Homo sapiens: one gene and its partners. The protein of the gene in region 3 interacts with the protein of the main gene of each other region in a biochemical or structural test. Each region holds a gene or a part of one and is shown on either strand. Other genes may lie near its edges. The genes, in order: NMNAT2, FBXO45 and MYCBP2.

The links.
Region 1: of the proteins of MYCBP2 (region 3) and NMNAT2, one has a biochemical effect on the other in vitro, tested with the Homo sapiens proteins (one study listed by BioGRID).
Region 2: the proteins of MYCBP2 (region 3) and FBXO45 form a complex in vitro, tested with the Homo sapiens proteins (one study listed by BioGRID).

The regions. Positions count from the first base shown.
Region 1 is NC_000001.11:183,415,381-183,422,738, forward strand, and holds the start of NMNAT2 (nicotinamide/nicotinic acid mononucleotide adenylyltransferase 2), read right to left. Parts: upstream 3,001-7,358; 5' UTR 2,888-3,000; coding exon 2,803-2,887; intron 1-2,802.
Region 2 is NC_000003.12:196,564,731-196,571,681, reverse strand, and holds the start of FBXO45 (F-box/SPRY domain-containing protein 1), read right to left. Parts: upstream 3,023-6,951; 5' UTR 2,698-3,022; coding exon 2,380-2,697; intron 1-2,379. UniProt on the Homo sapiens protein: Component of E3 ubiquitin ligase complex consisting of FBXO45, MYCBP2 and SKP1. Functions in substrate recognition but also plays an important role in assembly of the complex.
Region 3 is NC_000013.11:77,324,095-77,331,891, reverse strand, and holds the start of MYCBP2 (E3 ubiquitin-protein ligase MYCBP2), read left to right. Parts: upstream 1-4,797; 5' UTR 4,798-4,903; coding exon of another isoform or gene 4,904-4,987; 5' UTR 4,988-5,116; coding exon 5,117-5,418; intron 5,419-7,797. Other genes in the region: uncharacterized LOC127898562, read left to right, coding at 4,904-4,987. UniProt on the Homo sapiens protein: Atypical E3 ubiquitin-protein ligase which specifically mediates ubiquitination of threonine and serine residues on target proteins, instead of ubiquitinating lysine residues.

The DNA of each region.
Region 1 (7,358 bases), on a different chromosome or scaffold from region 3:
TTTCTTTAGACATGAGACAAAGATCTTAAGGAAAAGCACATATATGAATCTCACTTAGTTGATGGCCAGTTTAATTCTCTTAGTTTATGGTTCATGAAAATAGAGTGTTCATGGAATTATGCAGTCAGAAGATGAGCGGGCACTTCCTCCAGCCTTTGTTGCAGTATGAAGGCCTCTGCAAGAGGAATCAGGAACATGAGGCTCAAGTCTCAGTGCCACCCATTCTCCATGTGTGTTCATAAGTCACTTGGCTTCTGTCAGTTTCTCATTTGTAAAATAAGGGTAATAATGTTTTTCTTATAAGGTTTTTAACAGGAATAAGTAACATAACATAGATGAAATGGCTTTGTTAACCAGAACTGCTCTACAAAAATAAATTATAAAATTTATCCAGAGCTCAAAGATTCCAATAAGACATTCTACCAAAAATAGTTGAATGTGTATTTTGTGTTCTTATTCTTGCCTCATTTTCACCTGTTTATGTGCTAAATTCTTCATTAGGTAATAAACTCCTTAAAGCCATAGTGAGTGAACATATTATATCCTTTTTTTGTATTACTCTCTGAATTATACTTTAATGGACATGCAAAGGACTTTGTTCACATTCTGCCCTGGTCCTCAGTTCTTATACTAAGTAAATAATCGTTACTGCCAAAAGTCTCCTTTCACCTTTCTATATCTAAACCCTTCCACTGCAACTCAGGTCTATTTCCACATAGTCTATCCTTGAAGCTCATGGAGAATTGGCAGGTCAGCATTCGCTTAACAAAAGCCTTTATTACTGTTAACAAAGAATCTTCAGCTACAAGACAGAATCTTTGGTTCTCAATCCAAATCTGTTTCTCTTGTAATCTAAAACAACTGGGATTTCCTAGCTTCAGGAAGAAAGGAGCAGTACCTGCTGGGTCATCAAAGATTCTTAGAGCCACAGAGTTTCATCCCCAGCCCAATGGCTCTTCCCTACTCCTCCTTTCTCTTGGTTCCAAAGGAAAACCCATCATTGCCTGGTCAAGGGAGAGGAGTAAAGCGCATCAACATAAAGTGCTAGAGGACATATGGACAGACAGGAAAAGAAGGAAAGGGATGAAGACACCAGCATCAAAGGAAAGTGAAAGTGGAGTGTTCTTAGGGCACTGATAGTCCTTAGAAGACTGATGACATGCTCTTGTCTACCCTGATGCTGGAACAGAAGTCCTTATTTAACAGGCAAGTTGGCATTGGTTCTTAATAAAAGACTTTTGAAAGCTGAAGGAATGGTGAAGAAGGGATGGCTATCTCTCAGCCTCCCTCCTTCTATCGTGTAGATATGCCTACCCGATTTGCCCTTTGCTCAAAGTAGTTCTATATTCTTTCCATGAGGTTTTTAACAAGCGAGCCCAGTTCAGCGCACCTTTTAAGTTTAAAGATGAATATTTTTAGCCTAAGCCACCTCGCCCTGTCTTTACCGCTGTGGTGTGGTTTTCACTAAACCTCCCTAGGAGGGCTCGCGCAGTCCTCAGGCTCCGGATAAACACGTGTGCCCGCATCCAGCTCCGGCGCGCCCTGCATTTCAGCACCGCCGCCTCTGGAGAGCGCCTTGCTGGCGGGCCAGGTCAGGGCCTCCCACACGCTCTCTCATCCATCCCAGCCCACTCGCTTTTCCCTACTCCTCGCTTCTCTCAGTTTCAAGAAAAAGCACCCCCAACTTCTAACTTCTCAATTCCTGCTTCTAAAGTGACCTCCGCGTCCCTCTTTCCGTGTCTAAACGCTCATGCCCCACGCCTTTGAGTCCTACGAGCAGCTGCGAAGCCGCGTGGCTTCCCACCGGTGGCGCGAGACCTCCAATAGGCATCTATCGATCACCTTTCCCCTACCGCTGCTGGACCCCGAACCAGCCAGCCGGATGCCCCCGCTCGCTCTCTCTGACTCCACGCCCCAAAGCTTCTAAGAAACAAACGCGCGATAAGTCCCCTCCCCCCAACACGCACACGCATATACTCACACACAGTCATTCGCACATTCGTACACACACTAGACGCCTCAAGCCTTCCGAGTGCCATCGCCACCCTGGGCAGAGCCTCAGCCAACTTGGGCCCCGATCCTTCGGCTCCGGCTCGCGCAGGGCCTCCCGCAGCCTCCGCCCGGCCCCCTCCCCGTCCTAGGCAGCGGGTCCCTGAGGCCGAACCTAGGCGGAAAAGGGCCCCCTCCCTATTCACTCAGCATCCACCTCGCGCGGGCAATACACGGCCCACAATTCCCAAACACTGGTCCCTGGGCCGCCCAGAATCACCAGCCAAATCCGAAATTAATCTTGAAGCCCCAGCCCCTGTCACCGGTGTGTCGGGCGCGAGTGTGTTTGCGAATCCCAGGCACATACATGATTTAACTCCTTCGAGCTTTCGGCCCATCCTAAACAAACAGCACGTTATCTCCAGCCCCTTCCTCCCCTACTCGGCGCCCCAACCTCTGCCCCCATCCCGGTCTTCGCCAGCCTGGTAGCCGAACCACCGCACCGCCACACTCCAGTTCTGGTATCTCGAACCCCTGCCCAGCCCCAAATGATACTCATCTCTAGTCCCCTCCCATCCCCCACCTTTGGCCCCCTGCGAGCCGGGTCTGGCCCCGGCAAGTGACGCCTCGGAAACGCAGTCTGCGTACCCTCCCCTGAGTCCAAAATGAAGGGGCCGACCTCCACCAGCTGGATGAGCCGGCCCACCCCTCCGAAGGGGCACACGCCTTCCCGTTCGATCGCCCTGGAAAACACAGGTGCCTGGGAAAGGAGAGGAGCGGAAGCGGCTTCCAGAGGTGGGCGGGAGGACTCACCAAACATCTGAATGTGCCCTTTGGTGATGGGATTGAAGCTGCCGCAGGCGAGCAAGATAACGTGGGTCTTGGTGGTCTCGGTCATGGTGCAGATGGGTCCTTCGCGGTGGTCTAGGGGTTGCCTCTCTTTTTGTGTCTCGTTGTGTCTGCAGAGGGAGAAAGGAAGGCGAGGCTCCGGCGGTGGATGCTGTGGACTCCAAGGAGCCGCTCCAGACGCAAACCGCGTCACTCTCCGCCTCCCCTTAACGCTTGCAGCTCCGGCTAGATCCGAGGCTGCTTTTGTATTGCTCTGCTCTCTTCTCTCCTCGGTCGCTCTCTTTTCGTTCTGGCTTCCTTCGCATCTCTCGCCTGGTGCCCCACCCCATCCTCTCTATCGCCCCCAGCCCACTTCACTCCATCACTGTCTTCCTTAGAGTTTATCCAGAAGGCAAGACGTGGTATCCAAGCTCAGAACCAAGAGCCCACAGCATGGTGTGAGCTCTTTCTGCCTCTTGCCTCATCTTGATTCAGTTTTCCTCCTCATTCTAACATTTTTCTGTCCCCCCTACTTTCTCTAACATCTCCAAGTTAAAAAATGTTTGATCTTAAGGTATTTTTTCTTTCTCTCTTCCTCAAAATTTTAAGTGAGAAATGACCATTGTTTATTTCAGTAGTATTCATTTCTGCTTTTCCTTTTTCCTTTATCTGATGATTCCAAACTATTGAGTTGAGTCCAAATCTTGATCTGCTGGCTGCAGAGAGATAGGGGTGATCTAAGCCCTTCCTCTGCAATACTGATCCTTTTCGTGGGCGAAGCAATGCTATCCGTTTGAGAGAACATGAAGGGGGCAGAGTTACTAAAACTGTATTAGAAAATTATGGGGATCCGCCGGGTGCGGTGGCTCATGCCTGTAATCTCAGCACTTTGGGAGGCCGAGGCGGGCGGATCACGAGGTCAGGAGTTCGAGACCAGCCTGGCCAGCACGGTGAAACCCTGTCTCTACTAAAAAGCAAATACAAAAACTAGCCGGGCATGGTGGCGAGTGCTTGTAATCCCAGCTACTCAGGAGGCTGAGGCAGGAGAATTGCTTGAACCTGGGAGGCAGAGGTTGCAGTGAGCGAAGATCGCACCACTGCACTCCAACCTGGGCGACAGCGAGAATCCATCTCGAAACAAAAAAAAAGAAAAAAGAAAATGATGGGGATCCTCCATAAGCTACCAAAGTTGAGACAAAGACTTACCATTTAACAAGTGTTTCTTGAGGGCTCATTATGTGTCAAGTATTGCTATAAACCCTGCTGGTGAAGCAAAGTCACTGTCTTCATTTTACTGGAGGAAGATAGACAATAAATATTAGATGGCAATTGTGCAATGCACAGTAAGTGAATGCAATTTACTCTCTGACAGAGCAGAGAGTGAGTGGAGAAGAGAGGACGAATCAAGTAGTCTGAGAAGGCCTCTCTGGGGAGGTGACATTTCAGTGAGACCTGAGCGACAGGAGTAGTTGCTAGCTCACGTATTCAGGGACAGGGAAGGGCTTACTGTATTCATAGAAATGAAAGGCCAGTGATGCTAGAAAGTATGGGCAAGGGGAAAAATGATAGAAGACTGAGCAGCAGGTGATCAGGGCCAGATCAAATGGGGCTTGTAGACTAGGGCAAGAGTTAGACACTTTTCTAAGTGGAATAATAACAAAAGGAAGCCACTGAAGCTTTTAAGCAGGGGAATAATATGTAATTTACATTTTTATAGGATCACTCTGGCTGCTGGGTGGAAAGGGAGGGCAAATGGGAAGACAAGGAAAGCATTTAGGAAAATCTGGTAGCCTAGGCAAGTGGAGTTGTCCTGAGACCAGGGTTTATAGAGACGGGAGCAACGAGAAGTAGATGGTCTCAGGATATGTTTTATAGATTTTGAAATTTGGCTTAAACAATGAGTAGACTGAAATTGAGAATGGTAGGGGAAGATAGATGTTCTATGCTTATACAACAGAAAGAACCAATAATTCTTTGCAGATGAATTGGATATAGAGGATAATTCTTTTTTTTTTTTTTTTTTTTTTTGAGACAGGATCTCACTCTGTCACCCAGGCTGGAATGCAGTGGCATGATCTCAGCTCACCACAGCCTCGATCTCCTGGACTCAAGCAATCCTCCCACTTCGGCCTTGCAAGTAGCTGGGACTACAGGTGTTTGCCACCATGTCCAGCTAATTCTTCGTGTTTTTTGTAGAGATGGGATCTCACTATATTGCCCAGGTTGGTCTTGAACTCCTGACCTCAAGCAATCCACCCACGGCAGCCTCCCAAACTGTTGAGATTAAAGGCATGGGCCACAGACCCAGCCAGAGCCAATAATTCTTAACTTAGAGATTGACAAGTACAAATACGTACCTATCCTGGGCTTCAAGTTTCTTGGATAAATTTCCACCCCATATTAGTGAGTTGGTCACTGTGTTTTTTCTTATCCAAGAGCATGTGGTAGGTGTGGAGTAAATATTTGTTAAATTATGATGAATAGCAAATCAACCCTAATACGCATAAAATTTCTAGTTTAAATAGAAGACTCCTAAGAACTGATATATATTTATAATGGGGTTTGTATCTTCCCTAATATGATATGCAGATTAGTGGCTTAAAAAGAGCTAGAGCTTGTAAAGGGAGGTTGACTCAGGTATGAAACTGAGACTCACTAGCTAGGCAATTGACATAATTATAGTTAAGCAATCAATATTTATTGAGTGTCAGCCATGCACCAAGCCCTGATTTAGGGGCTGTGAACAAAACAGAGTCCCTGCTTTAATACAGCTCACATTCCAGGGGAAAACAACAGACCATAAACAAATGAATAAACATAATGGTAAAAAGTACCATAAAGAAAAATAAAGCAGAATGTGAAGAAAAGAGAAAGAAAGAAAATCCTCTTTTATTTGCAGGGGTCAAAGATGGCCTCTTTGATAAGACAGTGTTTGAACAGGGACCTAAATGAAGTGAAGGTATGTGTCACTTGAATATCTAGGGAAGAATATACCAGGCAGGACTGCTAGTATAAAGGATCGGAAGACTAAGAGTGCTTGGGGGTGTTTGACAAGCACACCAAGGTGACTGGAGAAAACAAAGAATGTGGAAAGCACTCAAAGACAGGTCCAAAAAGAAGGACAGATCATACAGGGCCTTGTAGGTCTTAATTAAGGCTCTGGTTTTTTCACTTAGAAGGGATGGGAAGCCATTCGAGGGTTTTGAGTGGAGAAGTGACATGAGGTGACTCAACGTTTGAAAAGTATGTTTGGCAGAAGATATAAATTTTGGAGTCTTCAGTGTAGTTTATATTTAAAGTCATGGGACTAGATGAGGTTACCTAGGGAGAAACAGATATACAGAGTGAAAAGGAGGTCCTCAGTTTCAACCCTGGGGCACACCAAATTAATAATAGTAGCTAACATTCATTGGGTGTTACTAGAAGCCCAAGCACTGTAAAATGTTTACAGATGTTAACTCTTTAACACTCACAATAACTCTGTGAGTTTGTATGATTTTATTCTATCTTAGAGATAAGCCTACAGGGGCACAGGGAAATTAAGTAACTGGTCTGGGTTGAGACTGCTAGCATGTATGGAACCAGATTCAAACCCTGACAGTTTTGATTGAAGGCCCTACTCTTGATACAAGGCTACTCTCTCATCTTGTTTCCCTGCTATGCTATACTGGCCATATTTGTAAAATGAGGAAAACAATACCCACCAAGCTGCAGAGATGTGAAGATTAGAGGTAATGTATGTAGAACACCTAGCATATAGTAGATGATCAATAAATGATAGCTAGTTCATAATTGAGAGAATAGGACTTCTTAGCAGAGATTGGAGAACAGACTGAGAGATACCTTACCATGTGCTAAGGTCTGAATGTTTCTGTCCCCCAAAATTCATATATTGAAACCTAATCCCCCATGTCATGGTCTTAAGAGGTAGGGTGATATGGTTTGGATCTGTGTCCTCACCCAAATTTCATGTTGAATTGTAATCCCACGTTGGAGGTGGTGCCTAGTGGGAGGTGATTGGGTCATGGTGGCAATTTCTCATGGTTTAACACCATCCCCCATGTAGGTGTTGTCTTGATAGTGAGTTCTCATGAGATCTAGTTGTTTAAAAGTGTATAGCATCTCTTTCCACCCACTCCTCGTGCTCCAGCCATGTAAGTCCTGCCTGCTTCCCCCTTGCCTTCCACCATGTGTAAAAATTTCCTGAGGCCTCCCTAGAAGCCGTTATGCATTCTGTACAAGCTGCAGAATCATGAGCCAATCAAACCTCTTTTCTTTATAAATTACCTAGTCTCAGATATTTCTTTAAAGCAGAGCAAGAACATACTAATGCATAGGGCCTTTGAGAAGTGACTAGATCATGAGCTGGAAGCCCTCATAAATGGGATTAAAAGAGGCTCAAGGGAGCTCATTTGTTCCTTCTACCATGTGATGACACATCTATGAACCAGGCATCAAGCCCTCACCAGACACCGAATCTGCTGGTGCCTTAATCTTGGACTTCCCAGCCTCCAGTGAGGAATAATTTCTGTTGGATATAG
Region 2 (6,951 bases), on a different chromosome or scaffold from region 3:
AAGGATGAAAGGAAAACATTTTGCTTGATATCATTTTGCTTCTATTGAAGCTTGACTCACACGAACACATTATCTATTACATATTATAATATGAATCTTGAATCATGTGAACATTTCTATTACAAGTCAATTATCAAAACAACAACTCCTAATTTAGGCTGGGTGCAGTGGCTAATGCCTGTAACCCCAGCACTTTGGGAGGCTGAGGCAAGAAGATCGCTTGAGTCCAGGAGTTTGAGACCAGCTTAGGCAACAAGGTGAGACCCCGTGTCTCTAAAAAATAAAAAATTAGCCAGTGTGGTGGCACATGACTGAAGTGCCAGCTACTCGGGAGGCTAAGCTAAGGAGGATCCCTTGAGCTCAGGAGGTCGAGGATGCAGTGAGCTATGATTGTGCCACTGCACTGCAGCCTGGGCGACAGAGTTTTGTTGTTTTGTTGTCTCAAAAACAACAACAAAAACTCCTAGTTTAAAATAAGTAAAAACAATAAACTTTACAGAAAAATAAAAACTAAATAAAATTTATGAAACCGACACATTTATCAAAGTAGGACAAAATTCCAATCGTCTGTACTCACCTATATAAATTACAACCAGTATCCACTGAATAGCCACCACGCACAAACAGTCCTAGTAAATTATTGTTATTTCGCTTAATAGAAAAACAACTTGAGGCCGGGCGCATGAGCTCACGCCTGTAATCCCAGCACTTTGGGAGGCCAAGGCGACGGATCACGAGGTCAGGAGATTGAGACCATGCTGGTTAACACGGTGAAACCCTGTCTCTACTGAAAGTACAAAAAATTAGCCGGGCGTGGTGGCGGGCGCCTGTAATCCCAGCTACTCAGGAGGCTGAGGCAGGAGAATGGCGTGAACCCGGGAGGCGGAGGTTGCAGTGAGCTGAGATCCCGCCACTGCACTCCAGCCTGGGTGACAGAGCGAGACTCCGTCTCAAAAAAAAAAAAAAAAAGAAAAAAGAAAAGAGAAACAACTTGATAGTTTACATATTTAATGGCAATGTTCCCTATCTTCTATAACTAAAACCGGTTTTACTACATAAGTATAAATTTTACATGCTTCACATGAAAAAAAAATTTTTACTTCTTACTCCGACCCCTGTTGGCAAGCTAGCATTAAAAAGGGGGTGTTATCGCGCGGTGGCTCACGCCTCTAATCCCAGCACTCTGGGAGGCCGAGGAGGGCGGATCACCTGAGGTCGGGAGTTCGAGGCCAGCCTAACCAACAAGAAGAAACCACAACTCTACTAAAAATACAAAATTAGCCGGGCATGGTGGCGCATGCCTGTAATCCCAGCTACTCGGGAGGCTGAGGCAAGACAATTGCTTGAACCTGGAAGGCGGAGGTTGCGGTGAGCCGAGATCACGCCATTGCACTCCGTCTCAAAAAAAAAAAAAAAGGGGGGGATGTTATCGTTTTAGTTACTAATGCATTCATTATGTTTAACACATTGCAATCAGACTTTATCTTCTCTTATATATGATCTTGATTGACTGCTATACTGAATAGCTGTTAACCATTCAACTCAACTCAAGACCAAGACCCTTTGTTTATTCGGCCTGAGAGTCCTTTCAGCCGTACCACAACTTGTTCCTTGACATTTTTATTTTGTATATGAAGGCGGGCGGAATATGCAGGAAGGATGCAGCGAAACTGTAATCAGCACGTTAGATGACAAATAGAAAAAGAGAGACACCATCAATGTGGAACTATTAAAAAGTTAGCAAGGAAACAGCCAATAACAGCAGGACAAAGCAGTATGTTAGGTGGTGCCCGTGGACGTTCTATAAAAGCCTGTATCTTGTAAGTGAGCAGGATGACTAGAACTACACTCACTTGTAAGCCTCCAATATAGTGGAGGGAACTAAAGAGAACTTGGGGGAAAATAATGAAAACAAATGGTTAAAAATCAGAGCTTGGAAAAGATGAGATAAACGTGGAGTGAAAGCAAACTAGAAACTTAGAAACTTAGAAACTAAGCCCATGTTAAGGTGGCCGGGATTATTTAATATAATGAAGTCTATCTGGAGGCCGGGGAGAAAAGTAGGATGAGGGCATTAAAAGGTACAAGAGTGGTGGTCTGTCTTTAACGGGGAAAACTGTCAAAAGTTGAATGAGTGAGGCAAACTACCTAGTTGTTTGAAAAGTGGATCACGGAAGTGGGATGGGTTAAGGAGCAGAACTTCGATCCAAAGAAAAGAGAATCTTTATCTTGGGGGGAGGTGAGGAAGATACTGACTGGAGCCGTGGAAAGGCGGGCTGGTGAGGCGAAGCTTCTGACTCAGAAGCTCGGATGAGAAACACCGCGAACGACGCCGGGGAGCGGGACTGGGGGCAGCGGTGTGGCCCGGGGCTCTCTCACCTTGGCCTTGTAGCTGGGCAGGTTGCACAGGATGTCCGTGCGCAGAGCCTCTTCTGCCAGGCTGCGGGCGCACAGGCTCCGCCACACCTCGCTGTTCTCATCGCCGTGCAGGCAGCGGTACCAGTGCTTGCACACCAGGGCGCAGCTCCGCAGCTCGGACAGCTCCAGGTAAGAGAACACCAACTCCAGCACCCGGCTGGGCAGCCGGCCCCCGGCCCCCGCGGCCCCAGAGCCCGAGCCCGCGCCCGCGCCCGCGCCGCCGCCGCTACAGCCAGCGCCGCCCGAGGCTGCCCCAGCCCCCGGGGCCGGCGCCGCCATCGCCTCACCAGCCGGCCCTAGGGCCGCCGCTGCCGCCGCCGCTTCCCGCCGTCTCTGCTCGGAAGGCCAAGCCTCGCCCGGAGACCGGAGCGGCTCGCTCACCGCCCCTGTCAGTGCCAACCGCCGGCGCCTCCACCACTCCCGCCCCTGCCCGGGGGCGTCCGCCGCGCGCCCCGCCTCACTGAGGGCAGACGCACCGGCTGCAGGGGCGTCCTCCGCCCCTCCTCCGCGGCTCAGCGCGGGCGCCGAAACCGCCCGACTCGCCCGGCCTCTCCGCGGCGCGCCAGCGGCTCCGCCATGCGGGTTGAGGGCACGAAGCAAGGGCGCACGCCCAGCTCGTTCGCGGTTCCTCTCGGCCCCGGATGTGACTGTTTGGCTGCGCCGCCTCACGCCTGACGCTCGACGGGATTGGGCGCCGGCGGGTGAGGTTATCACTAGGCGCCGAGGAGGGGAGCGGGAAGCGCAGGTATGAGGCTGGCGCCGGTGGCTTCGATGCTGCTTTCCGGTGACTTCGATGCTGTTTTCCAGTGCTTTTTCCTTTTTCTGGTCTGGTGGCTCCGCGTCTGCTCTCCTGGGCTCCCTTTCCTGTGACGTTTCCCTGTGTCCGTTAGGTCCTTGCTTCAGACTCCAGCTCAACGCATGAAACTTTTCTCTCCTTGCTTGCCGGGTCCTGGCTCCCCAACCTTTTTGTGTAGCTTGGGCAGCGGAGGCCGTCTTTACCTGGTCAGGCCCTCTCGTTCTCCCTAAGTATCGGCACTTAGCGAACGTCTGTCCCTGTGTGCCTTCGCAAAGTAAGGTGGCTGCGACTGAACACCCCCTCGCCCAAACGTTCGAGTGCCATTTGAGCGCTAATTAAGTGCTGCCGTCTTTTGGACAAGATGTGGTCTTTACTGGATCCACCGCTTAGTAAGCAGATGAAGGCAATGTAGTTTTAGTCAATTAAACATTCCAATAGGGAGAATGACGTGGAGGCTATAATTATAGATGGATTCTTGGAAGGGGAAGAATTTCAGCATCCCAGCTTGGGCAACATTGCGAGGCAGTGTCGCTACAAAAAAATAGAAAAATTAGCCGAGGGTGGTGGCGTGCGCCTCTGGTCCCAGCTACTTGGGAGGCTGAGCCCGGGAGGTCGAGGCTGAGGTGAACCGTAATCGCCCTGCTGTGCTCCAGCCTGGGCGACAGAGTGAGCCCCTACCTCACACACACACACACACACACACACACACACACACAAGAATTTCAGCATTATTTGATTATACTACGATTTCCTAGGTGGCCCCAAAGTTTTCCGACAGCCTTTAAAGCATGCTTAGTAAGAGAATAATAATAACCATCATTTGAGCCACGGTGTGAACCAGGCACTGTATACTACGTCATTTACGCAGATTTTTATATACGTAATCCTCAAAACAACTCCATGAGCTGAGTAATTAAAATAATAGGGTTCACAGACTCCCTTGGTCAACTCCAATGTCTTGGAACCTTTATGTAGTAAGAAATCTTTTCTGAAGCTTCTTGCTATGTATAATCCATTTCTTAGTCTCTAGTAAAAGCAAAGGAACGGTGGCTACCTTCCCTACCCTCTGATTCATGGTGTTTGATTATTATTTGCCTGTCCCTTCTCCTCATGTCTTTTTCACCAAGTCCAGTAACCCTAATTCTTTTCATTCTTACCAGTGCCAGCGCCACAGCCCTTCAATCATTTTGGTTGCTATCCAGCTTCTCCACATCAAGTCCAACTTCAGAAACCCCAAGCCTGTAGAGAAAAGTTGACCTGTGCTGACTCTGGTGATGGTGACTGTCTCTCACTAATTTCTTTGAAGTCTTCAAGGATAAGCAGAGTTGATCCATCTGAGAAAGGGATCATGAACTAGACAGAATGAACAGCCTTAGAGGCACAGACTCTTGAACGGGACGGTGGTGGTATGACTAGTGCAGAGTGTTTAGAGATCACTCAGTTTTTAAAGACTGGCCTTTATCGTGTCTCAGTGCAGCCGAGGCAGAGCCTTTGAAGGATGCGATGTTGTCATTCTTACTAATCTAGTCCAGCCGCTGAGGTGACTTTCAACGGCAGACCGTCTCCTGAGCGCCCCAGGTAGAATTTCAAAGTAAGATTACCCTTCTCAACCCCTCCTTTTCTTTTTTACAAATCTTTCACCTGCTCATCACCCACCCCACCAAGCCCCTTCCCCATGTTCAGTACTCTCATTCTGCGCTCTGGCTGATGAGAACTGCCGGCTGTGGCACTTCACCCTTTTAAAAAATGCTCTCGGCCGGGTGCCGTGGCTCACGCCTGGAATCCCAGCACTTTGGGAGGCCGAAGCGGGCGGATCACCTGCAGTCAGGAGTTTGAGACCAGCCTGGCCAACATGGTGAAACCCCATCTCTACCAAACATACAAAAATTAACCGGGCGTGGTGGTGCATGCCTGTAGTTCCAGCTACTCAGGAGGCTGAGGCACAAGAATCGCTTGAACCTGGGAGACGGAGGTTGCAGTGAGCCGAGATTGCACCATTGCACTCCAGCCTGGGCGACGAGAGCGAAACTCTGTCTCAAAAAAAAAAAAAAGAAAAAAATGCTCTCAAAATAACTCACCTGGCAGGGCACAGTGGCTCATGCCTGTAATCCCAGCACTTTGGGAGGCCGAGGTGGGTGGATTGCTTGAGCTCAGGAGTTAGACCAGCTTGGGCAACATGGTGAAATCCTGTCTCTACAAAAAATAAGATAATTAGCTGGGCGTGGTGGTGCATGCCTGTAATCCCAGCTACTTGGGAGACTGAGGTGGGAGGATTACTTGAGCCCCGAAGGTGGAAGTTGCAGTGAGCAGAGATTGGGCCACTACACTCCAGTATGGGTAACAGAGGGAGATACTGTCTCAAAAAAAAAACACAAGAAAAAACTCACCTTTCCCTCACCCACTCTGTGTGATTTCTTTAGGTATTAGAAGGAAGTGATCTATTATCTAATTAAAGTAATTTACAGTAGGATATGATTAACTGCTGTGCTTAACGCTTTAGGCAACTCCATAGGAAAAGAGAAGCTTGTTGACTTGATACGTGAATGTGGGGATGGTGACACTTCACCTCTTTCTGCCAGGCTTTCCAGTTGCAGTCATAGAAAAGCAAGAAACAGTGGCTTGCCAACTCATTTCTGAAAAATTGTTTTGATTTAACCCAACTTTAATTACATTTTTTCCCACTACCCTTCTATCACAGCAATCTGATTAACTTTTTCATAGTGTTCTTTGGTGTGTTTCAAATAATAACAAATCATTTTAGTTTTATAGACTAAGTAAACAATTTTGGAGGCTCTAGTTGAATCGCTGATCAATAGTTTGCATAATAAATCTTGATTGACTAAAATTAATAGCCTCAGAGTTTATGGATTTCTGTTTCTGGGGCTTTCCAAACTCCCCCCTGCCCCCTCACCCCGACTCTCACCCAGGCTGGAGTGCAGTGGCACAATCTCAGTTCACCACTGCAACCTCCACCTCCCAGGTTCAAGCCCTCAGCCTCCCGAGTAGCTGGGATTACAGGCACGTACCACCACACCCTGCTAATTTTTGTATTTTTAGTAGAGACAGGGTTTCTCCATCTTGGCCAGGGTGGTCTTGAACTCCTGACCTCAAGTGATCCGCCCTCCTCAGCCTCCCAAAGTGCTAGGATTGCAGGCGTGAGCCACCACGCCCAGCCTCCCCTGGCCCCTGCCTTTTTTTTTTTTTTAACATTCCCAGTAACAGTTATTTATTTTTCTGACTAGATAAATGATCAGTAAATATTATCTATGTGATTTAGAGAGTAGGAGTTTAGTGTGTAGAGTTTAATAAGATGAAAGTGTTCTTGGGGTCTTGTGAGACTAATAGAACAAGAGTTACTACTGGTTCCACTGTGGAAAAATTTATAGGAACTGTAGTCTTTATAATAATCCCTTTAAGGACAAAATTCGTTTATTGCCTGTCTTCTCACACTTCGGAGCAAAACTTAACTGAATGAACCTTGAAGATTGAGTTAATCTTTTCTAGAAAAGAATTAAATTAGGAAGAAAACCTGCTAAAACTTTTGTCTGTCAGTCAGCATTTATTTGGCTCTCCTGTGGGTAGATTTGTAATGGAGAAACAGGAGCACTAGAAACCTTGCCTCATTCTTGTTTCAGAGAAAACCTAAAATCCCAGCTGGGATCCAAAACCTGTATGCACACAAATATCAGCAAATCTTAATGCTCTAGAGTACAGACTTCCTGACTTCAAAGTTGATT
Region 3 (7,797 bases):
ACCCAAAGGAAAGAAAATCAGTATATAGAAGAGATGTCTGCGCTCCTGTTTGTTGCAGCACTGTTTACAATGGCCAAGATTTGGAAGCAAACTTATTGATGTAAGTGTCCATCACCCTATAAAGGGATAAAGAAAACGTGGTACACACATACACAATGGAGTACTATTCAACCATAAAAAGAATGAGATCCAGTCATTTACAATAGCATGGACTGAACTACAGATCATTATGTTAAGTGAAATAAGCCAGACACAGAAAGACAAACATCACATGTTCTCACTCGCTTGTGGGATCTAAAAATCAAAACAATTGAACTTATGGACATAGAGAGTAGGATGGTTACCAGAAGCTGGGAAGAGTCATGAGGAGTTTGGGGAGGGGAGATGGGGATGGTTAATGGGTACAAAAAAAAAAAATCAGAAAGAATGAATAAGACCTACTATTTGATAGCATAATAGGGTGACTATAGTCAATAATAACTTAATTGTGTATTTTAAAATAACTGAAAGAATGTAACTGGATTGTTTGTAACTCAAAAGATAAATGCTTGAGGGGATGGATACCTTATTCTCCATCATGTGCTTATTTCACATTGCATGCCTGTATCAAAATATCTCATGCATCCTATAAATATATACACCTTCTATGTACCCACAAAAAAATTTTAAAGTAATAACAAAATTTAAAAAAGATTAATCTAATAACTTATAAACTATACTAAAGTTTTCAAGGTTGAAATGCTATAGTTTTAAACTTTCTGTTTTTAGGACAATTATACTTTATATAACTTTCTACATCAGTTGTGAAAACATCCTCTAGGCTAAATGCATCACAACAATGAGATTTTGAAAGAATGTGATTTGCATTCAGATATATAGTATTGAATTCACATACTTAAAAAACATATACTAATATATTTTAGGATAATTTTTCACGGATGAAAATGTCAATATATGTCAATATATAACTTAGGATCCCTGGAACCTAAATTTTTGGATGTGGGAAAACTTGGACATATAATTTACATCTTTTAAAACTACCATGAATAAAAAAGAAAAACATTAACTCATCATGCTTACAAGTTACTGAATATCCCAAGGCCCTAAAAATATAGTTGTTTAAAGCATGAGGTTAAGATAGCCAGGGGATGCAATATGTAATTTATGTTTAAAATAATTTCGATAGCCATGTTGAATTTTTCCCTTCAGCTTGGAGTACTAAATATATTCTATGAAATATACTTTATTTTAAAGTGCAATATATTTGTCAAGAATGCACTATCTTATTACCCTTAAAAAGAGAAGGTCACTGAAGAGTAAAGCATGTCTTCACTCTTCAAGCCTAAGCTTTTTCTTTTTTTTTTCCCAAATTGTTCTCAGCTACCAATTTTGTTTTTAAATTCCCCAATACATTGTTGTACAAATCCAGGAAACAAACGCAGACTTTACCACAGCATTTTCAGCAGTCTCGATGTACCTAATAATATACATACTTCCTGTGTTTGTAGTCTTGTAGCTTTAGTACAATATTAACCCTTTAAATGAAACAACACTAATCTGTCCTCTTATATACACGTTATGGTTCCTGCCCTGTTATTTACTACATCAGCACGGGTAGCTTCCTTTAAAAACAAAATCGTTAAAGATGAGAGTAGGAAAAATGTAAATGTGATAAGAGTTCAAAAAACTGTGGTCCAGGTTTGCAATGTTAAGTGGAAAAGAACGACTAAATCTGTGATCACAAGGGGAAAGATGAAGCCATAGTCTTATTACATGGGCACAGGACAGAGAGATCTCTTTTGCGAAATGAGCATACCAACCACAAAGAATAAAACATACTACGCCCGTAATAAAATGGGCACAGGCAGGATTTGCCGTAGTTCAATGCTATTCTTTGAGGGCGAATGTGTCGTGGGTGAACTGCTGTCTAGCCCATTCCGACACCCAAGCCGCCCAGGCGGCCCCCACGCCCCCCGGCTGCAGCCCTCCCTGTACACACAAATGCACACACGCCCAGCCCGGCCGCTGGAGGAACTAAGATGGCAGCGCAGAAAGCACGGGGGCCGAGCTCGGTGGGGTGGGGAAAGAAAAGCAAAGCCCTCTGTGTTTTTTCATTCTGTATAGGTCCCCCTCTTTCCCCAAACACAAGGGCTGCGTAAGGCATTCGGTAGTAGAGCTCGCAGGAGCGGCGGGAGGGGACGCTTGCTTTGCATACTGCCAGAAACCCACGTCTCCGATCTGCAGCGACGGTTCAGGCGACCCTCGCGACTTGTGACCACACTCTCCTTCACGTCCCCTTGACAGTAGAAGTAAGGGTGACTCCAAATGCCTTTTTCTTTCTGGCATGCGCCCCACTCCCCCGCCATCCCAGGGGAGCCTTCCAAGTTGCCCAGCTGCCAAGGCGGTAGCTGTGGCAGTTGCAGGGACCGGGGAGCGCGCCGTGCGGAGGCAGGAAGAGGAGGAGGAGGAGAAAAAACGCTGCACTGGCTATCAATTTTGAGGAGAGCGACCGCTGCCGCTGCCGTGGAAGGAAACGCTGCCAACCGCAACAGAAATGCCACTCTCGGATACCTAAGTGAGCATGTGTGCGACTCTGCGCACGCCTAGTTGCGCAGCTCAATGACATCGGGCTTCTTAGCAAGTTATCCAGTTTCCGGGTTTTGAGTGTACCCATCAGGCTCCGTAGGGGCCTGTCTGGGACTGAACAGCAGTAAAGATTGAAGCGAAATTAATGAATGGTGGGAAGAGCCCGGAGACCAGGGCAGCCACGCGGGTCAATGTCCACTAGAAACTCTAAATGGGCAGTGACTGCACATTCCACCACCTGAGCCTGCGCTGTAAATGTTTTCTGTGCAAGCAACATTCATTCATTCAGCCAACATCTATTTCCCTCCTGTTCAGGGCTAGACCCTGTGCTAGGAGCCTGTGATGGTTGAACAGACACCATTGCTACCCTACGGAAAACCTAGTGTTTTGTTTAGTATGTGCTACCATTTGTGAAAATTCATGTGCCAAGTTGGACATCCTAGATCCTTTAAGTCCTCCCTCAATCTCATGTAGTGGGTATTCTTTTGAGCATTATTCAGAGGAGATAATTTGCCCAAAGCCAGACAAGTATTAAGTAGCAGAGTCAGGATCCAATTCCAGGGCTGTCTGATTTCAGAGCCTTTTAGCTACCCTGCTAGGTCTTGCAATAGTAATGGGCCCTCTCATTGCTTACCTGTCAGGCCTTAGAATTCTTAGAATTTAGCTGCCTCTACACCATTGTCTTGGTTCTCACTCCAGGGTTAGGGGCTGCCTGGTCAACACTGAGGTCTTTAACTGTGCTGAAGCATTAGGATAGAAATTTAGTCTAATAAATACTTACTGGATACCTACTACATGCAAAGTCCTGAAGTGGCTGAAGGAGACACAAAAGCAGCAAGCTCTGAAGGAACTTAGGTAAGGAAACAAGACAAATACAAAAACTTAACAGGGCTAATTACAGTACTAAAATACTATGATTCCACATGTCTTGTCCTTTGTTCCTATGTTTATCCCACTGCTAATTATCTTTAAAAAAACTAAATGAAATCCATCCATTATTTAAAGCTTCAGAAAAAAATGCATTGCTTTCAGCAACCTTCCACCCTAAAACTAGAATTAATTTACTTTCCTATTCCTTGTTGTTTGCACTTCTCAAACACTAAGGAGGATTTTTTAACATTTATTTTATTTTTTTTTAAGAGAAGGCCATCCGAAGAAGAGGCACAGATATAAGAACTAGTACATAGATGAAAGATACAGTACTGGGATGACAGAACTTATAAATTATTTTGTCAGGACTGTAAATTAGGAAACTCTTCAAATTGAGAGTCAAAGGATAAAACGTAGTAGGAATCAAAGTGCATTGGCACGTATATTTCTAGAGCATATACTTAGATGGGGTTCGTAGGTTAGCTTGGAACAAAGGACTGAGCAAATGTTACTTTTTTATAGACAACAACAAGATATGTGATGGATCTGACATTTTCAGACGCTATACAGTCTCCGTCACAATTATTGTTTCAGATCGCATTCAAGAATTATCTTTAAAAATGTAAGTTTGGGCAGAAAAAAATAAACCATTAAATGACCACTGCCAAGAGATAAAAGTGCACTCTTAGGTGAGTGAGGAGTCAATAAAAAAGAGTAATTTAAAAAATATTATTGCTCCGTTGAGAACAAGAATTTGGGAATGACTCTGGCTTGTGAATACTAGCCTATCTGTTATACTTTCACACACAAAATACTTTCACACACAAAAAAGAATGTGCTAGATTACTACCTGTCTTTGTAAGTAAAAGCTGTGTTAAACAAGCGTAAATCCTAATGACAAAAACCATATAAAATAAGATCGCTAAAGGCACTTCTAATTGGGATGGTTTTCTCTGCCTTAAACTCTGAATTAACCAGCACAATTCACAGTAAATCTTCCTGTTGGCAGCAGAGCCTTGGAGAAGAGGTAGCAGAAGAGCGTGCCACTCCTCCTCTGGCGATGGGCACGTTCCCCCTTGCTTTCTGGTCCTCGTTCTTCCACCTGGAGGGAACCTGAAGTCGAACGTCAGTAGCTGACAGCCTCCCCAGCACTTTCCTTACTCTTCTTCAAGCTGCCAGTAAAACCCGGAGAAGTGGACTACTTCAGATTCCGCACAACCCAACAGCCCCAAACCCAAAGCCCCGAGGCGGAGGGAGTGGTGGCGGAGAGGGGGTGGGGAGGAAAAGGGGCGGCAGTTACTGAGCATGTGCGAGGAGTGGCGCATGCTCTGTGAGGCCGGCAGCTTCCCATTGCGGGTAGCCCCGGCGGTGGTGGCGGTGGTAGCGGTGGTGGCGGCGGCAGTGGCGGCACCGCCTCCTCCTCACATTCCCGGGGTGGCGGGGTTAGATGAGCGGCCCCAGTAGCGGCGAGGGCGGCGCGGGGGGGAGGAGGAGAAGAAGGAGGAGGAGAAGGAGGTCGCTGTCTTTGTAGTCTCCCTGCTGCGGGAGCCAGAGGCCGCCGCCGGAGCCGTCGTCGTTGGAAAAGGGCTGTGTGTGCGCGCGCGTGTCTGCCCGCCCGGCCCGCGGGGACGAGGCGGCGGCGGCGGCGGCGGCGGCGAGGATGATGATGTGCGCAGCGACTGCCTCCCCCGCCGCCGCCTCCTCGGGGCTCGGCGGGGACGGATTCTACCCAGCCGCCACCTTCTCTTCCTCCCCGGCGCCGGGGGCGCTGTTCATGCCGGTTCCCGACGGCTCCGTGGCTGCTGCGGGGCTGGGGCTGGGGCTACCCGCCGCGGACTCCCGGGGTCACTACCAGCTGCTGCTGTCAGGCCGGGCCCTGGCCGACCGCTACCGGAGGATTTATACCGCTGCGCTCAATGACAGGGACCAGGGGGGCGGCAGCGCTGGACACCCAGCCTCCAGGTGCGTCCCCAGGGTGCCCTTCCTTGCGCCCCATGCCGCCCTTCCTTGCGCCCCATGCCGCGCGTGCACCCGCGTGTGTGTGTGCTTGCGTGTGTGTACCTGCGCATTTATTGAGCTTTCAGTCCGCTCTGGATGTCTGTTGGCAGGAGCACTTATCGAGATAGGAGGGTGCGGTGGCTGCAGTTTCTCGTGTGTGTGTGTGTGTGTGTGTGTGTGTGTGTGTGTGTGTGTGTCTGCCTGCCTATGTGGGGGGATAGTGAGGGGTGGTAGGGGAACCTGTGATGCTGGAAAAGGCGATGGTGCTGGTCGGCTGTGACACGTGTGTGTATCGTTGAGGTAGGAGGTGGCATGGGTAGAGAGGGTAAGAGGATGATACACGAAGAGAATTGCAACAGTGGCAAGGGAAGTGGCGTTTTCAGTGTCTCTGCCGCAATGTTATTTGCACGTGCCGCCTCTCCCATGACATTCCTTCCAGCCCTTTCCACCTCCCTTCAATCTGCCTTTCACCAAGAGGAGTCATGGTATAGATTGGTTGAGTTTTGGATAAGCAGGCCCGAGGGATAGGCGTGAGGTTTGCTTTAAAAAGATTTATGAATAAGGGACGCAGATGGAGATCTGTGTGGATGCGAAAGGTGTCTGATAGAGATTTTTAGAGCTGTACTTTGATAACCGGGCCTTTTGGTCTTCTAGAAATGAGGTTGCAGTTACTCTTGTGATCTGATGTCCCATCGGCCATTTCTCTTCATCCTCTGTTCGATTTCCTCTGTTACTTACAGGCTTTAGAGTAGAGAGGGTTTTGTAGGGAAAAGGGGAAAACTGCAGAACTTCAGAATATGACAGCTGGTACAGCGTTCAACTGCCACTAGCTAGAAAATCTGAATAGCGCGTAGATTTGTCTCTTTTACTTGGGTTGGCTACACCTTCAGCTTCCTTGATGTAGATGTTCAGTTGGTTTCATTTTCTTTTTCTTAAAATGTGGGTGCTTTTTTTTGCTGAGGGCTCTCCTATTGTTTTCTTTTCCATGCCCTTACATGCCGCATACCCTGAAGGTTGGTGACTGACTTGTTTCACCAGCTTTGACAGTGGTAATTGGGAGTTGGCTTCATCTTTTTTTTCCCACAGCTTCTTGCAGTACATGGGGAAAACATAGTAGGAAACTGTCAAAATGAGTTAAAGAGTTTACTGTTATTTATTGAATGTGCAATTTATTAGGCAATTGTTAGGTGTCTTTTTCTCCCATTATGAAAGGGACGAGGCTGTAAGTCAGGTATTTGTAGCTTATCACTAGGTATCATGGCTTATCTGTTGGAGACAGTTGTAAAGCTGGAGCTTTGTTCACACTTTTTCTAGGTTAACCAGTTTTCTCATGTCTGTGATTGTTTACAGGATTGGGCACAGCAGTAGTTTTACCATATGGATGTAAACGTGTGTAACTATTTTTTGCTATCTGAACTGAAGGCCAGAATGGCACAAGTCTGTTTCTTGCTAATGCTTTTGAAAATAGCACAAAACTACGTGAGACAGTTTGCCCTGATAATTAGGTATAATTTTGATCTGTAAATCTCTAAATTATGGCACCGCAGGAACATCTTTACAAACTCCTCTCAAAGAATTTAAATTTATTTTGTGTATGGTTTCCAGACTTATGCAATAATTTTTGACTTGTATATTCCTGTTTTGACTTCCTACTACTAGTGTAATATGATTTCTGTGTATCTAGAACTATATTAACGGTTTTAGACAAAATTAACATAGATTAATCATATAACATTTGTGAATGATTTTTTAGCCCTTGGTCCATTTTTGTACAAGCCGTCAATGAAAAGTAATGAAGAATTAGTTCAAGTATTTCAAGAACTACTCATGGAAATCAGCATTATGTTATGATATTGCCTGCTAATGCTTGTTCAACGCAACATTATTGTTTATTTAAGTTCACATTATTTTATTACAAAAAGTAGCCTGCAACTACTCTATTGATGATTTGATTAAGAATTAAATCACATTTCTTATTAAAGATGTTGAGGAAAGTAGACTTGGGGTTTCGGCTCTGAATGAATGATAGAATTATTTGTATAGGGACACAAGTTAAAGGAGAAGATGATATCTTTTAGAGAGACTGAATGGAGCAATAATAGAGAATGAAGCTCTAGTGAGCATCAGGTTTAAAGGTGTGAGAGAAAGGAGACAGTGAAGGAAACGGAATCAAAATTAAGAAGAAAATCATGAAACAGTAGCCTCTGTGGCTCTAGGAGAGTGGATTGAAAATTCTCAGAAGTGGTAAATGTTGAAGAAAGTGAGAACCGTTTTCAGGTCATTGATAACTTTTGAGGAAGTGGTCAGAATAGAGGGATGTGGTGAGGAGTGAATGGAATGTGT